Regions from separate parts of the Homo sapiens genome. Here region 1 is linked to region 2. Evidence: fine-mapped expression QTL. Tissue or cell type: whole blood. Region 2 holds a variant in brackets; the other region holds the start of a gene. All regions are shown on one strand. Distances are between the middles of the regions.

The links. PIP is the estimated chance that this variant, and not a neighbour inherited with it, causes the effect.
Region 1: it holds the start of C1RL-AS1, and the variant in region 2 is fine-mapped to the expression of C1RL-AS1 in whole blood (TOPMed, PIP 0.97).

Annotation. Positions count from the first base shown.
Region 1 is chr12:7,104,713-7,112,806 of GRCh38, reverse strand. C1RL-AS1 (C1RL antisense RNA 1) reads right to left here and starts at 4,499. Exons shown (of 12, transcript NR_026947.1): 1 at 4,326-4,499; 2 at 3,860-4,134; 3 at 2,660-2,743; 4 at 2,235-2,509; 5 at 1,201-1,782; 6 at 743-800. C1RL (complement C1r subcomponent like) reads left to right here and starts at 3,593. Exons shown (of 6, transcript NM_016546.4): 1 at 3,593-3,697; 2 at 4,328-4,556. The coding sequence starts at 3,627. RefSeq lists enhancers at 3,652-3,731, 4,372-4,541, 3,374-4,573.
Region 2 is chr12:7,060,085-7,068,176 of GRCh38, reverse strand. C1S (complement C1s) reads right to left here and starts at 7,459. Exons shown (of 12, transcript NM_001734.5): 1 at 7,300-7,459; 2 at 6,260-6,338; 3 at 5,495-5,702; 4 at 5,110-5,287; 5 at 3,785-3,910; 6 at 2,878-3,077; 7 at 2,207-2,360; 8 at 1,544-1,659; 9 at 1,060-1,138; 10 at 406-534. The coding sequence starts at 6,264. RefSeq lists enhancers at 6,871-7,370, 7,371-7,872. The variant AAGAGAAAG/G (reference allele first, on the strand shown) is at 3,090.

The DNA of each region.
Region 1 (8,094 bases), 45 kb before region 2:
ATTAGAAAAAAGTCCCCCCAAATTCAGACATCCATTTTCATTTCTACATCGGCCTTTCAGCTATACTTCTTTGCTTTTTTCTACTAGTAGTCACCCTAGGGCAACTGTTCTCAAACTTTATACCCTTAAAAAATTATTGAGAACTCCAGAGAGCTTTGGCTTATGTAGGGTATATCTATTAATAGTCACTGTACTAGAAATCAAAATTGAGAACATTTTAAATCACAAAGATACACAAGCACGCATCCCGCTCACTGCCACGGATGAATCATTGCACATCACGTAGCCTCTGTAAATCCACCATATACCATGACAGAATGAGAGGGAAAAAAGCAAAGAACATCTGAGTATTTTTATGAAAGTCATTTTGTTACCTCACAGACCCCGTGAAAGGATCTTAGGGCCTGTGGGTCTTCCCACACCACAGGGTGGAGACCCGCTGCTCTGGGAATTAGTCTGCATCCTAAACTCCAGTTTTCTCAGTTCCTATTGTACCACTTCATGTGAAATGAAGGAAACTTGTAACCATGAGTCCACCCCCTTGTCCTCTATACCAGCAGTCCCCACCCTTTTTGGCACAAGGGACTGGCTTCATGGAAAACGGTTTTTCCACAAACCAGGGATGGGGCCAGAGGGAGATGGTTTCAGGATAGTTCAAACACATTACATTCATTGCATGTTTTCTTTCTATTATTATTGTTATTGTAATATATAATGAAATATTAATAATTATACAACTCACCGTAATGTAGAATCAGTGGGAGCCCTGAGCTTGTTTTCTTGCAACTAGACGGTCCCATCTAGGGGTGATAGGAGACAGTGACAGGTCACCAGGCATTAGATTCTCATAAGGAGCACACAGCCTAGATCCCTCCATGCATAGTTCACAATAGGGTTCGTGCCCCTATGAGAATCTAATGCTGCTGCTGCTGCTGCTGCTGACAGAAGACGAAGTTCAGATGGTAATGTGAGTGATGGGAAGCAGCTACAAATACAGATGAAGCTTTGCTTGCTCACCACCACTCACCTCCAATACTGGTCCACGGCTCAGGGGTTGGGGACCCCTGCTTTATACTACAGTCTTCATATATGTTACAGCTACATATGTTATAAACCTCACAATACAATGTTATAATTTTTGCCTGGAACAGTTCTACATATTTTAAAGACATTAAAAAGAAAATCGTATTTTATATTTACCTTCAAATTTACCGTTCTTCTTATTCCTGTCTGCAGCTCTGCTCTTCCAATTTGAGACAGCGTCTCACTCTGTCACCCAAGCTGGAGTGCAGTGGCACCGTCATGGCTCACTGCAGCCTCCATCTTCCGAGCTCAAGCAATCCTCCCACCTTGGCCTCCCAAAATGCTGGGATTATAGGCGTGAGCTATCGTGCCCGTCCTAAAGAACTTTCTTTAGCGCTTCTCATAGTGGAGGTCTGCTGGCGACAAGAATCTCTGTTTTCTTTTATCTGAAAATAGCTTTATTTCATCTTCATTCTGGAAGAATACTTTCACTAGAAAAACAATTCTGAGTTGACTTTTTTTTTCCTTCAGCATTTTAGAGATATTCCACTGTCTTCTGGTCTATATTGGTTTTGATGAGAAAAGAGTGACATTGAAAATATTGTTCTGTCTAGTCTTTAGGATGGGATTAAAAAAAAGAAAAGATTTTCTCTTGTCTTTGGCTTTTAGCAGTTTGACCATGATGTGCCAAGGCATGCCCTTTTTTTCATTGACCACTCTGCCAGTTAGAGACGAGGTCCCAGTGTAGGGGAGGTGGTGCTGAAAACACAGCGGGGCACAGCTCAGCCCTAGCCCACAGGGGCCTGCAGTGACCAGCTATGCACAGAGCCATCAGCTCCTTCTCCAGTCTCACATCACCAGCCATTCCTCCCCTTGCCCTTGACCCTAACTCATGCTGCAGCCGCACACGCCACCTAGGTGAGACCAAGGTGGGCCCTCATCTTCAGAGTGCTGGATTACCCCAAACAGGGACCACATCCAGACCCTGGACTGCCCAGTCACCTGGGGCTGCCGGTGCATCACTGCCTCCCCACCCTCTTGGCTCCCTGTCCTCTTTCTCACCCAGCCTCACTCCAGCACTTTAACCCCTATCCATTTAGGGTGACCACCAGTCCTGGCTTGCCCAGAACTTCCCTCATTTTAAAACGGAAAGCCTCATGTCCTGGGAAACCCGTCGGTCCCACGCAAATCAGAACAGTCGGTCACCCTACCTGTCCTGGAGTTTCCTTCCAAGGCCTTACTCCTCCCTCCTCCAGCTCATCTCCAGGAAAGTCTTCTCAGATGGGCTAGCCTGAGTTTTCCAGTTCCTGCCCCTCTTAGCAAACAAGGAAATAATGCTCTGAAGGGAAACGAGGGGTGGACTCCCCAATCCTGATCTGAGTCTTGGCTGGTTTCTTCTTAACACATGGGTCTTGGGATTGGTACCATTGTTCACTCTTTGGCTGCATCTCTGGCTCCCAAGGTGCTCCAGGTGACCCTAAGAGTTCTATGAGAGAGCAGGTTTCAGTGGTCTCAGGGGAGGAAAGAAGTCCTAGTCAGAGAGGCCCACTCCTCGAAGATGGGTATGGGAGATCATCCCCAGTTGTGTTTGGGGTTGGGGTGTGGCAGACAGGTAGGCTTGATCTCAAGACTGTACCTGAGACATTGCATCTGTCCTGGCCATCACTCTCTTATCATCTCCTTGTAGCCATAGACTGTGGCTCTCCTAAATCTCTCTAGCCTAGAAAAACCAAAGATGCAGAGCACACCCTGTTTGGGTCTGTAACTTGCCTCCATATTACTATATGCAAAATGGGGGAAGCAATAGATTCTTCTCTGAGAGGTGTGTGTGCGCGCGCACATGCATTTGTGTGTGCATACAACGTAAGGCCTTCCACACACCTGCCTTCTCTGAGGATGGGACCACCCATCTCCATAAGAGCCTTCTGGCCTCCTACCAAGCTGTGGGTGAGTGTCCTTCCTCGGGGAGCGGTGAGAGCAGGCAGGGGCTCTAGTATCTGCCTAAAGAAGCTTGAGTGACGGCTTGAGTGATGACTGGGACTAGGGACTGAGGGACACCTGGGCTCGACCCCAGCCCTGACCATGCTGGACAAGCAGCCTCCAGAGGTTGTGAATAGGATTCAAAAGACCACCTAAGCGCATGTCCCCCACCCCTGCTTGGGGAGGAGGGAAAGGAAGAGAAAGCTCAAGTTCAAGGATCACAAACTTCAATTCTACAAGAGGGAGGCTCCCCGGGTATGTCGTGAACGGAAAGGTCGGGGAGGAAGAGACATGGCTGATTGAAGGCAGCAGCCATAACTCACAAGGAGCCATCCTACACACATGGCAAAAATTAATGTTAAATAGTACAAAAGGGTCGAGTCAGTGCCCTGCCACCCTGACCTCTGAGGGCCAGCGAGGTTTTTGGACGTTTCTCCCCTAAGCTGCGGCGGGCCCGCTGTTCCTGAGTCAGACGGCAGGTGGCGCTCAGCCCGGAGAATTGGAGAAGGGGAACTGTGGAGTTGCTTAACATTTCCAGGAACTTCCTCCTCCCCCACCGGCCTTCACCTTTTGTTCCCTATCCTGGGCCAGTTCTCTCGCAGGTCCCAGATGTCCAGTTCCAGATGCCTGGACCCAGAGTGTGGGGGAAATATCTCTGGAGAAGCCCTCACTCCAAAGGCTGTCCAGGCGCAATGTGAGTGTGGCCCCGGCAGAGGAGGAGGGAAGAGGACGGGAGGGGAAGAGAAAGGGTGGGTGGCCGCAAACCCTCCCTCCCCCCACCCTACCCCCCCCACACACACATCCCCCCCCCCCCCACACACACACACACACACACACCTCCCCCACATACACACACCAGCAGCAGCAGCAGCAGCAGCACAGCAGATATTCCATGGGGAGACTGAAATTTGCCTGTGGCCTCTAGCACCTTCCCAGAGGGTGGTCGGGGGATATTTACGGCAGACCCTCACTCGCCCCACCATTGCTCCCTCGGATCCCAGGGTGGGGTGGGATCTGCTGAAGCAGAAAGCACCCCCCTCCTTTGGACGAGACTCTCCTGGGAGATGAGCAAAGGTGATGTCTTCGGAGGATGGAAAACCCACAATCCTAGAGCTCAGGCTGCGCGGGAGGCTGTAGGGATTGGGGTGAGGAAGGGGAGCAAGGGAGGAGACGGGAAGTGCCCGGGCCTCAAGGGTGAGGCCACAGCTTCTAGCCCTGCCTCGCGAGGCCTCTGAGTCCTAGCGCGGCTCCCCCGCTCCTCCCACACCCACAGGCTTCCGGCCATAGCTGCGCGGCCCCACCTTGCCCTCCCCCCAACTCACAGGTGGTGGCTGCTTCTCTGGGGAGTCCTCCAGGCTTGCCCAACCCGGGGCTCCGTCCTCTTGGCCCAAGAGCTACCCCAGCAGCTGACATCCCCCGGGTACCCAGAGCCGTATGGCAAAGGCCAAGAGAGCAGCACGGACATCAAGGCTCCAGAGGGCTTTGCTGTGAGGCTCGTCTTCCAGGACTTCGACCTGGAGCCGTCCCAGGACTGTGCAGGGGACTCTGTCACAGTGAGCTGGGGATGGGGGGGGTCCCGCCAGGACTGTGGCCAGGGAGATTCCCGGGGTTGTGGGAAGTGGCGGTGCCCTGAATCCCCCATCTGGAGGAGGGATGAATTTTCCATGTAGGGGCAGTCGGGCTTGGCTTACCGGGGAGCAGTGGTGGACCCCAGGACACAGCCTCCCACCAGCGCCTCCGGGGCTGCCATCTGGGCCCCACAGAGCAAAGAGGGCAGCAAGCAGGCCCTGCGTTTGGAAGGCTTATGAATGGACACACAAATCTTGCAAATCTATGGAGCCAGGGGCAGGGACGCACATATTGGTTGTTAAAAATATGTCATCATGTATTTGTTGAGTGCCTGCTCTATCAGGTGAGGAAGCTGGACACAAATAATAACAAAAGATTAAGTCACCGTTCACACTTACCTTGGAAGAGCTATTACAAAACTTCTAACGCCAAAGCCTTATTCAGAATAAGGACATTTTAAAAACAGTACTTGATGGAGTGATGCAAGCTTGCAGTCCCAGCAGTATAGTCAGGAGACTGAGGCTGGAGGATCAGAGGGCTGGAGCCCAGGGTTCAAGGCCAGCCTAAGCAACATAGCAAGACCCCATCTCAAAAATAAGTAAATAATAAATAAAAATAAAAAGAGCACATTATCTTTTGATTTAAATTTTATTTATATCAAAATGACATAAATTTTTGAACTTTATTTTTTAATTTTAAAATTTTTAATTATTATGGATACATAATAGTTGTAAGACTTTTTGTTTTTTAATTAAAGTTTTCTAAGGCTGGGCGCAGTAGCTCATGTCTGTAGTCCCAGCACTTTGGGAGGCTGAGGCGAAAGAAGCACTTGAGCCCAGGAATTTGAGACCAGCCTGGGCAACATAGCAAGACCCCATCTCTACAAAAAAATTTAAAAATTAGCCAAGTGTGGTGGCACGCACCTGTGGTCCCAGCTACAAGGGACGCTGAAGTGAGAGGATCACTTGAGCCTGGAAGGTAGAGGCTGCAGTGAGCTCTGATCATGACACCGTACTCCAGCCTGGGTGACAGAGTGAGACCCTGTCTCCAAAAAAAAAAAAAGGTTTTTAAAAAGGTTTATGAATAACAGCAGTCTCCAAGCTGTTCCTCCCCGCCCCTGAGTGCTGCTCCTCAGGAGCAGTCATTTGCCAATTCATGTAGCTGTTTCATCTGGTCTTTAACTTCATATGTATAAATAACATGCTTATTTGTCTTTCATTTTTACGTATTTTCTATTAATGCTCAACTACAGTATAGAAGATAAGGACTAGCTTTATCTGTCTTCAGTCTTCACCACCCACATTTCCCCTCCTCATTCTGCCAGTTTACCTATATTATCATTTTTAGTTAAATCTTTATTCATTATTTACATTATTATGACTGTAAAATATTCACATCTGAGCACATAGCATAAAATAATTATATTTCTTTTCTTCTCCAACTTTTGGGTTTCCTAGGAGTCAATAGTTACATGGAGTTTTTTTGTTTTGTTTTGTTTTGTTTTTTGGTGGGGGGTGTTTGTTTTTGTTTTGCTTTTTAGTTTGCTTAGTTGTCTCTGTAACTAATCTCACCAGACTCTTAACCAGGAGTGTAAATCTTCTTCTGAAATACTCAAGCATGAATTTCAGTCTATCGGTCCTCCTTTTAATTGGTGACATCCCTCCTGAAGATCTCTCGATTTATTTTCACAGCCTGAGTTCTTTGCTCTCTAAGCCGTCACACATTCTGGGAGTTCTCTTCTCCCTCTTTCTGGGGATTTCCTTTACCTGTGCTGAACCTGAATCCCATACCTTTCTCTTTTTTGGTTTACTCTCCCATTTTGGAGGAGCACCTTCACCAGTGGCTTCCTTAGAAAGGGTATTTTAGAGTGAATTTTAGAAGATCTTATATATGTCTAAATGTCTCAGTTCTACCCTCACAGTGGAGGGATAGTTGATCTGGGTATAGCATTCTAGATTGGAAACCTTTTTCTTCCAGAATTTTGATGATATTGTCTTCTAGGTCTAGACTTTGTTAAGAAGTTTGATGCCCTTATCATTCCTAATCCTTTGTTTTCTCTCTCTAGAACTTTTGGAATATTTTCCTTATTACCAGTATTCTGGACTTTCATTATGATGTCTCTTGATACACGTGGTTTTTTACTCATTGTGCAGATTTCTTTTAATCTAGAGCCTCTTTTAATCTAGTCCTTCAATTCTAGGAATGTTCTTGTGCTATTTTTTAAATAATTTCCAGATATCTCATTTCCTTAGTTTCTCTTTCTCCTATAATTCAGCTGTTGTATGTTCTAGATTGATTCTCTAGCTTTGTTATCTGTTTTGTTCTATTTACCATCTCTTTTGTTCTGCCTCCTGGGAAATTTTCTCATCTTTAAATCCCCATCTTTTAGTTAATGGTTTCTTTCCACTGACATATTATTTCATTTCTAAGGATTCGTTCTAATTTTCTAAATGTGCCTTTTTATAGAGTATTGTTCTTGTTTCATTGATGCAGTATCAACTCCTTTCCCTCCTTTGGGATTATTTTTAGATGTTTCTTCTGTTCTCTATAGTGGGTCTATTTCATCCAAGTTCTTTTTTACCGTTTGTCTGTTTTGGTCTCTGCTTTTTGTGTTAGAGACTTTCCTACGATATCTGATAATACTTGGCTGTCCATTCATATTTAAGGCCGGGCGCAGTGGCTCACATCTGTAATCCCAGCACTTTGGGAGGCCGAGGCAGGCAGATCACCTGAGGCCAGGAGTTTGAGACCAGCCTGGCCAACATGGTGAAACCCCGTCTCTACTAAAAATACAAAAATTAGGCAGGCATGGTGGTGTACGCCTGTAATCCCAGCTACTTGGGAGGCTGAGGCATAAGAATCGCTTGAACCTGGGAGGTGGAGGTTGTAGTAAGCCGAGATCAGGCCACTGCACTACAGCCTGTGGGGTGCAGAGTGAGTCTCTGTCTCAAGGAAAAAAAAAAAAGAGTGGAGCACTAAAATACTGATTGGAAGTTCTGTGTGGATAGCTAAAATTTGTCAAATGATAGGTTTGAAAATAGGGTTATCGACAAGGTGACCTAGATGTGCCACTGGGGGCCTCCCAACTGTCAGGATGTAAAAGCATTTTATTTGGGGGCAGCCAGTTTCCCCTGAGAGGACTCCTGCAGATTCCAGCTCAGGGACCCCAGCATTCTGGTCAACAAGCTGAGAAAAGGGCCTGGTGGAGGGAGATGCAGCTCACTGTTTGGCAGGTAGACTTTCACTTAATCCTTCTGTTTTTGGTACAGTGAGTCCTCACTTAAAATCATCCATAGGTTCTTGGAAAGTATGACTTTAAGAGAAATAACATAGAATGAAACCAATTTGGCCATAGAGCTAATTGATATAGACAAGAGTGAAGTTTCTACAGCAATTACTGATCACAGAAACATCACCAAACCTCTAAATAAAGACCCCAAACACTTCTAATATTAAATATTGAAATACATGTGAACTATGCCTACATGTAAGAAAGGTTAATAAAAACGAATAAGATTATTT
Region 2 (8,092 bases):
ATTAGGGTCTCATTCAGCCCTGCACCTAGCATGACCAAAGCCTCTACATCAAGAAAGCCAGTCAGTGTAGTTTGGTGGCTTAAAGCTGAAGGCATTGCTCCTGTGGGTTTTACATGAAATAACTGGTCAAAAGGTGGGTAATCCCATGAAATGGATGTTGTAGGGGAATTCCTGCTGCAGCTGTGAACTCAGTTGGTGACCTCTATGATTCCCTGAGGCTGATGCTCCCCTGAACTTGCCCTGCTCCAGATGAAAACTGTATCTTTGGACGAAGCCAAGGGGATGAACAATGTCTGTCCTATCGCCTTCATTTGTCTCCAAACTCTGTCTCTGGCACAGATTATGCTATCCACCCTCCAACACCTTCTCACTCTCTCTCTCTCTTCTCCAGTAGAAGAAACCTACCACCTCCTCCATTTTCCATGTAGTAATATGGCTCCTCACAAGTGTAGCGGATGACAGAACCAAACAAAGTGCTCTCTGGGTCTTCAACTTTACCATTCTCAATGGATTCAGGAATGCCACAGTCCACAGCTACCAGACGAAGGAAGGAGAGCGATGGTCAGGACAGCCACTTCCTCCAAGGAAGAGTCATGGGGCCAGGTTCATCCTCACTGCTTCCCCACCCCATATCCACAGGCACACCTGGGATGAACCTCCCCACACCAGCCTCTCTGTGGCCATCCTCCCCAACTGGCATCTCTCAGCTCTCTCACCCGCTGAGATGCCAATTCAGATGGCCCCATGAAAGCCGTAGTGAAGAGCCTGGTTCTCAGTGGTTGGTGAAGGCCCAGTGGAAGCCACAAATGCACCCACGTGGGGCTACTAACTCGACCTATCCCATAGCCCCTTTCTTGGAAAGAAACATGCCGATCTAGTTGGCCTGGGACCAGATGCGGGGCTGGGACTAGAAAAGCTTCCATGACTGGCTTCCCTTCAAAAACCCAACCCACTCCCTCACATGCCTAAGAGGAAACCATGCATTTGAATTTTGATGTGCTGATCTTTCCATTCTCTCTGAGAGAAAAAGAAAGACTTCCACTTTGAAGAGACACATACGTTGACATTTCAGTTTGGAATTACTCCACTTTCCATTGCTTTGACAAGTCGAATAGAAAGATGTTGCACCAACACGTCCCTGGAGAATAATAAACATCACCACTTATTTCTGAAGAGAGATATGGGAAACCAAAATCAAAACTGGAATTGATCTCTGGCCTTGGATCAATGAGGAGTCCTCACCACAAGAAGCTTGGGAACATCTTAGCAGACCTAAAGCACCCAGGAGATGAGGCTGACAGAAAGCTTTGCCCCAACGTGTCAACTCCCCTTCCTCAAGAAGACTGAAGGCAGAGAGAATGCCAAGCTGGCCAGGCAGCTCCATGACTCACAAGGGAGAACTACAGATCTTAAGCTGTTGTGTTTATGGGAAAGGTGTTATACCTTGATCACACACATACATTGGGTAAACAACTGGACAATTTCAGTCCGCTCATCCTGATCTGGGGCCAGGGACTGGGGAGAAGCCAAGGTGGTACTTTACCTCCACAACTTCAAACCCATCCAGACAGGTTATCTGCACCACATCTCTAAAGACATATTTTGCCTTCGCAGGCTCCCAAACAGAATTGGGAGTGTCTTCCTTAGGGCAGGGCATTGCTTGAAAGAACAGAAGTTGGGACAGGAGGAAAAAATTACTAAATAGTTGAAGACTCTCATTCTATTTACATCATTCTCACACTTTCTAAAATCGTCCAGTTGTCCTCAATCCTGATGCTTAACATTCCAATACAGCAGATGTCTAAAATCATATGGCATTACCAACTAACCACCCGCAAGCTGTCTGCAGTCTCAGGTCTAGTTAAAGGATTACTAGAGGTTGAGGCATTTCTAGCAACCGTTGACTGGTTTAGATTTTCCTGAAGAAGTGAAGTATCTCAGGATTCTATCAGAACAACAATCTATCTGTTTTTTAAATTATTGTTGCTTTGTTTTTGTTTTGTTTTAGAGACAAGGTTTTGCTCTGTTGCCCAGAGTGGACTCAAACTCCTACTTCCTGGGCTCAAGGGATCCTCCTGCCTCAGCCTCCCTCGGTAGCTGAGATCACAGGTGCTTCCAGTGTGCCTGGATCATCTACCTGCTTTGATCCCACATTGTTTGGGGACTTTGGTATCACCAACCAAAGAGGCACTTCTAAGTTACTCACGATCTCCATGATAGCGAAGTTTCCAGCCCTTTTTTTGCCCTGTTAGATCAGTTTGGAAGATGATATCAAGAGCATTACTCTTGGTTTCAATATTTAGAGGCCCAGGGAATCCATGACCACAGTAAGGACCAAATTGCCGATCTCCTGCAACAAACTGAACAAAATGATGAAATCAGAAGAGGGAAAGAACTAAAGGGAAGAGGTAAAATTGGGAAGTGGGAGATACAAATAAAAGAGGCATTAAATGTCACATAAAATAAGAAGAAAATAAGGGTCAGGAGAAAAGATAATTTTATCTTCAGGCTGAGTGCAGTGGCTCACACCTATAATCCCAGCACTTTGGGAGGCCGAGGTGGGAGCATTGCTTGAGGCTAGGAGTTTCAGGCTATCCTGAGCAACATAGCAAAACCCCATCTCTGTAAAAAAAAAAAGAATAACAATAAAAATATTAGCTGGGTTTGATGACACACGTCTGTGGGCCCAGCTACTCAGGAGGCTGAGGTGGGACGCTTGCTTGAGCCCAAGAGATCAAGGCTACAGTGAGCTGTGATTGCACCACTGCACTCCAGCTTGAGCAACAGAGAAAGATGCTGTATGAAAAAAAAATTTGTCTTCAGGGAGAGATCTCTCTGTGTAAGTTAAGGGTGGGGTATTAATCAACCATCACGCACAACTAAACTGTCAAGGCAGTTTCCCGCTGAGTCAGCTGCTTCCACATCAAAATCTTCTCTCCGCAAGGTCACCACCACTTGGAACCCTTTCTCCAACCGGATCTGGTATTCACACCTTGAGTTCTCTGGATATGGTTTGGGATAATTGGGACTTGCAATCTCCCCAATCAGTGCAGTGAATACATCCCCACTGCAATTAACTAACAGAGAAA[AAGAGAAAG/G]GGAGAATCAAATACAGGGTCAAGCAAAGGAATTCCTGCACTATTCTATGATTCCTTCTCTCAGAAACTGACAGTCCTGCATTCAAACTAACCTGAGATCCCTGCCCTAACTGGAGGGATAGAGCAATTACACGTGCAATACGTATCAGTAGGAATACCCAATCCCTATTAGGTTTCCATCACTTTGCTTAGGATGGAGCCTTTCTGGTTATGAACAGCCCCCAGTAGACCCTTTACAGGCATCTATCTCTCTTATCCAATTAACTAACTTTACCCTATAGTCTTATCTTCCTCCTTCTTGTGGCTTCATCTCAGCTTATGAGTAACTAAGAATAGATGCCAATACAGAGTGATATAATGGACTCTGGGGACTCAACGTGGGAGGAGGTTGAAACAGGGGCGAGAAAACTACACACTGGGTATAGTGTACACCGCTCAAGTAACAAGTGCACTAAAATCTCAGAATTGACCACTAAGGAACTCATCCATGTAACCAAAAACACCAGTACCCCCAAAACTATTGAAATTATTAAAAATAATACATAAATAAATAAATTCTAAAATAAAAAAGAAGTGCCAAATGAAGGCTTGGCCTAATCGAAGTTGGAAGGGTGGACAAAGCCCTTTCTGAGGCCTCAGCCATTCCAAATCCCAGGGAACATGCAACCCTCTTAACACCAAGCTCACCTCCGCAATTCTTCATGTCATCATGGAGGAAATATTCCGGGGGGCAGGAGCAGAAGTAACCACCAATGAAATTGTTGCAGAAGTGGCTACAAGGGACATCTACAAAATCTGTGCATTCATTTATGTCTACAAAGAGTAGAAAGAGGCTGAGGTCAAGAACAAACACCAAGAAGGGAGAATGAGGTTAAATCCAAAACCATAAGGGTAAGAAAAAGTAGGAAAGGCCTATTGCTTAAAGATCCGTCAAGGGATCACATTTCAGGCTACTATTATTCCATATTACTCTCCTGACATATGATTCCAGAGTTGAGCCCTACCACTACACAGCTATAAGGAAGCTCGGGGGTGTGTGTGTGTAAGTGACATAGCCTCACTCTGTCACCGAGGCTGGAGTGCAGTGGTGGGATCTTGGCTCACTGCAACCTCCACATTTTCAAGCAAGTTCAAACAAGTCTCACGCCTCTACCTCCCGAGGAGCTGGGAACACAAGCACGCACCACCACTATGCCTGGTTAATTTTTCATATTTTTAGTAGAGACAGGGTTTCACCATGTTGGCCAGGCTGGTCTTGAACTCCTGGGCTCCGGTAATCCACCTGCCTCAGCCTCCCAAAGTGCTGGGATTACAGGTGTGAGCTACCATGCCCGGCCTAGGCAGCTCTTAATGTCAGAGATCCTTGACTTTTCTCATGTACAGAGCATTTCAGCTCCAGGAATGACACTCTGCAAGGTAAACATCATGACGATGCCTTCTGCAGGGAGGAATCAGTACATTCATTGCTTTATATGATGTTGGTCCTTCTGTCAAATCTAAACAATAGTTTGGCTTTATGAGATGTCCTAGCTTCATTTTAACCTAGAGAGAGATACAGAAGTACCCAGAATTTGAAGGTTTGAATGCCATATATTGAATGGGTTTAAATACTACACATTCCTTGTGTGATTCTTGGCAAGTTATTAACTTTCCTAGTCCTTATTTTCTTCATCTTTATATGGAGCAAATAATACCTACCTTGAAGGATTAAAGTGACGATTGTGTTAAAATAGGAAAAATCCCCAATCCCCAATACATACCCAGTTTATAGTGGCTCTCAACAAATTGCTGTTTATTATGTACTATGTGTTATTACCATGATCATCATCACCACTAAGATATGATCATGCATTTGAATTTCACAAAAGTGATTTATGGAGCGACCCAGGCCAAGTCAACACTTTTTATAAGAATTACGAACAGAATCCTCATTCAATGTGTTGCTCAGTGGATTTCTCATTTCTAATCTTTTAGCTGGGTCAATAAGGCACATGCAGAAGGGTGAGCCTTACCTGTGGCAACATAGTATGCAGCAAACCCCGTAAAACGCTCTTCATTGGAAAAGTCTGACTTAAAGATCACCTGGAGTTTGTTGTATGGGACTTGGAACTCTTCCACAATTGGAGAGTGGGGATTGTTACTGCTCCTCTGTCCACAGAGCCTCCCTTCTTCAGTGTCTCCTGAGATTATCTAAGAGAAGAGTCACAAAAAAAAAATCTAGGAAAGGGTAATATTTTGGTATGGAGTTAAAAGAAGGGACAGAGAGAATAGAACATTTATGCCACTAGGACTTGACTCCAGTTCACTGTGAGTACAGGTGGCACTCCCTCCCACATCCTTATTCCGCTACCTTAGCCCTAGTCTTCCATCTCTATTCTTTTTGTGCTTATAACATACCTGCACTGAGTCATACGCACAGTTCTCTGACAGCTCAATGTCCAGATGGGTGAAGTAGAGGTGAATCCCATACCCTTCAGGAACTTCTATGTCCCAAGATTTCTCTACCTCACTGGGATATGCCTGAGGATAGTTAGGGGACAGGATCTCCCCATACATGGTAGGCTCAGCATAAACCCATGCCAAAAGTGAAAACAGGACAATGCACCTGAAAAAACAGAGGCATAGATTGGCGGGTGACCAGGCACCAGTAGCCTAGGACAGAACGCGCTATTTGCCAGAGGCAGAAGAAAGGGGGAAGAAGAGAGGCAGTCAATCGGCCATGGGGGAGAATCTTAGGTCGGAATAAAGAAAAGGCCCAGGTCAAACCAAAACCCAGGCTTCAGACAAGAGCCCTTTTTTTTTTTTTTTTGAGACAGGTTCTCACTCTGTCACCCAGGCTGGAGTGCAGTGGTGCGATCTCAGGTCACTGCAGCCTTGACCTCCCGCGCTCAAGTGATTCTACCACCTCAGCCTTTTGAGTAGCAGGGACCACAGGTGACACGCATGACGCTGGGCTAATTTTTTTTTTTTTTAATAGAGACAGGGTCTCCTTATGTTGCCCAGGCTGGTCTCAAAGTCCTGGGCTCAAGCAATCCTCCCGCCTCAGCCTCCCAAAGTGCTGGGGTTACAGGTGTGAGCCATCATGCCTGGCCCTTGAGCGCTTTTCTTGAGAAGATGAAGGGAATGGAGTCTGTGTCATCTCAGGGACCCTTGATCACTTACCACATCTCTGGCGATTTGTCCACCCTGGTGAGCTGCCTGTCTCTTGGTCCTGGCTTTCTGCACCTCCGGACTTTGGAGCCTAAGGGGTGGCAGGCCTGGCTGTATTTGTCTGACAAACACAAGCACCTTCTTTGGTGGTGCGGCGTCACCTGGGGCTCAGTGTCACCTTCAAAGGTATAACACACAGGGCCATATCACCAACATCCCCACATGGCACCGTGCCCCTCACACCCTCCCTAGTTAACTTCGACTAACTTTCTAGACTATAGCTAAATTGTATCCTTCCCTCATTGCTTCTCTAGACTTTCTCCTAATTTTTCTCCAAAGGAATCGAGTACTTTCTCCCAGTTTTCTTCTTCCTCTATTGTCCTCCACCAGCCCCACCCCCGCGGTATCAGTCTCTCTCCTGCCCTCAAGAACGATGCTCCCATTTCCACTCAGGTTTTCAACAGTCTTGGCGCATCATGATCATCCATGTAGGACAGCCCCTCTTCTTTAACCGTGATCACCTCATCTCCTCAAGCAGCCCTGTCTGCTGTTTATCATTGCGTGCATCTCCGCTGATGCTCCCAACGCCCACCGATGGAGGCAGGAGCTTCTTTCACTAGGGGAAGGCAGGGACCCTGGGACAAGCGGTCTGAGAAGGAAGTGCTGCCCCACTGATACAGGGTTGTGCGAGGAAGGAGAAAAGGGACAGCCAAATGACAAGGAACATAAAAACTTCCTACATTCGTTTTCCAGAGTTTGTTTGGAGTTTGTCCCTGCCCCCCACCGCCAACTTACTGAAAATACAAGCTATCTCCCCACAGTTCCTAGTAAAGGGTTGCTAAAATTGCTTTAACCCTGAAAACAGTGGTAGGTAAGGGGGTGAAGTAGGGGTGGATGGGGTGAGCCTAAGAGAAATAGGTTGTCTATATTCTGCCTTTTTTTATGCTGCCTTTGTCAGCCCTCTATCATTGCCCCAAGCCCTCCTACGTGAAGTTTTCTGCCTTTCCTTTTTCCTCCATCAAAGCTCTGCTCCTCGTTTGTAAGGATTTTACCTTCAGAAGCTGGTAGGAGCAAGTGGGTCAGTTCCCTCTCTCCTGCCAGTGGGCATGCTGGGCAACCCCTCTGGCCCCCAGGGACAGCAGCACAGGGCCTTGACGCTCCCTCTGCAGGAACCTCCGGCCAGCCTCCCTGTCCTGGTTCTGTTCATAAGATTCCCTACCCGAGTGTGCATGTCTGAAATTCCCTGATCTAAACAGAGGGGGCTGGGAGACCATGACTTAGGGAAACTCAGCCTTGATCTTGGAGCTCCCTCTGCTTTTGAAACAAGGACAGCGTCCTCCTCCCAGGCCAGAGAGCCCTCTATCCAGGGCTCCAGCGGGGAAAGGAGGAATGGGGAATTTCACCGATTGCTTAATGCTATTTTTCAGCCAAAGGGTGTGTTTCTGAGTTTTCGGGAAAGTCAAGTGATTTCTGGGAAAAGGCGGGGATTGGTACCAGGGGAAATAACCAAACCCAGAAAGTCCAGCCCTCCAAATGTGTGTGAATCATGAATTAAGGGAAAGTAGTTATCAGAAATGTAAGTCATCTCTGCTTTAAAGCAAATGTAATGGTTGATAATGACTTAACACCAAGACCCAAGGTGGTATGGCGTGAGGCTTCCTCTTCATAACATCCCTCCACATCCCTTCCAAACATCGAAATTCTACCCCACAACCAAGCCCCCTTTCAGATCCAACCCAGACTCCCTTATCCATAACCCTTGAAGCCAGGTGTGTTTTGAAATTTTATAGATTTTTTTAGGCTATGTAGTCCATGGACCCAATATTAGGTAACACCTCCTCCTCT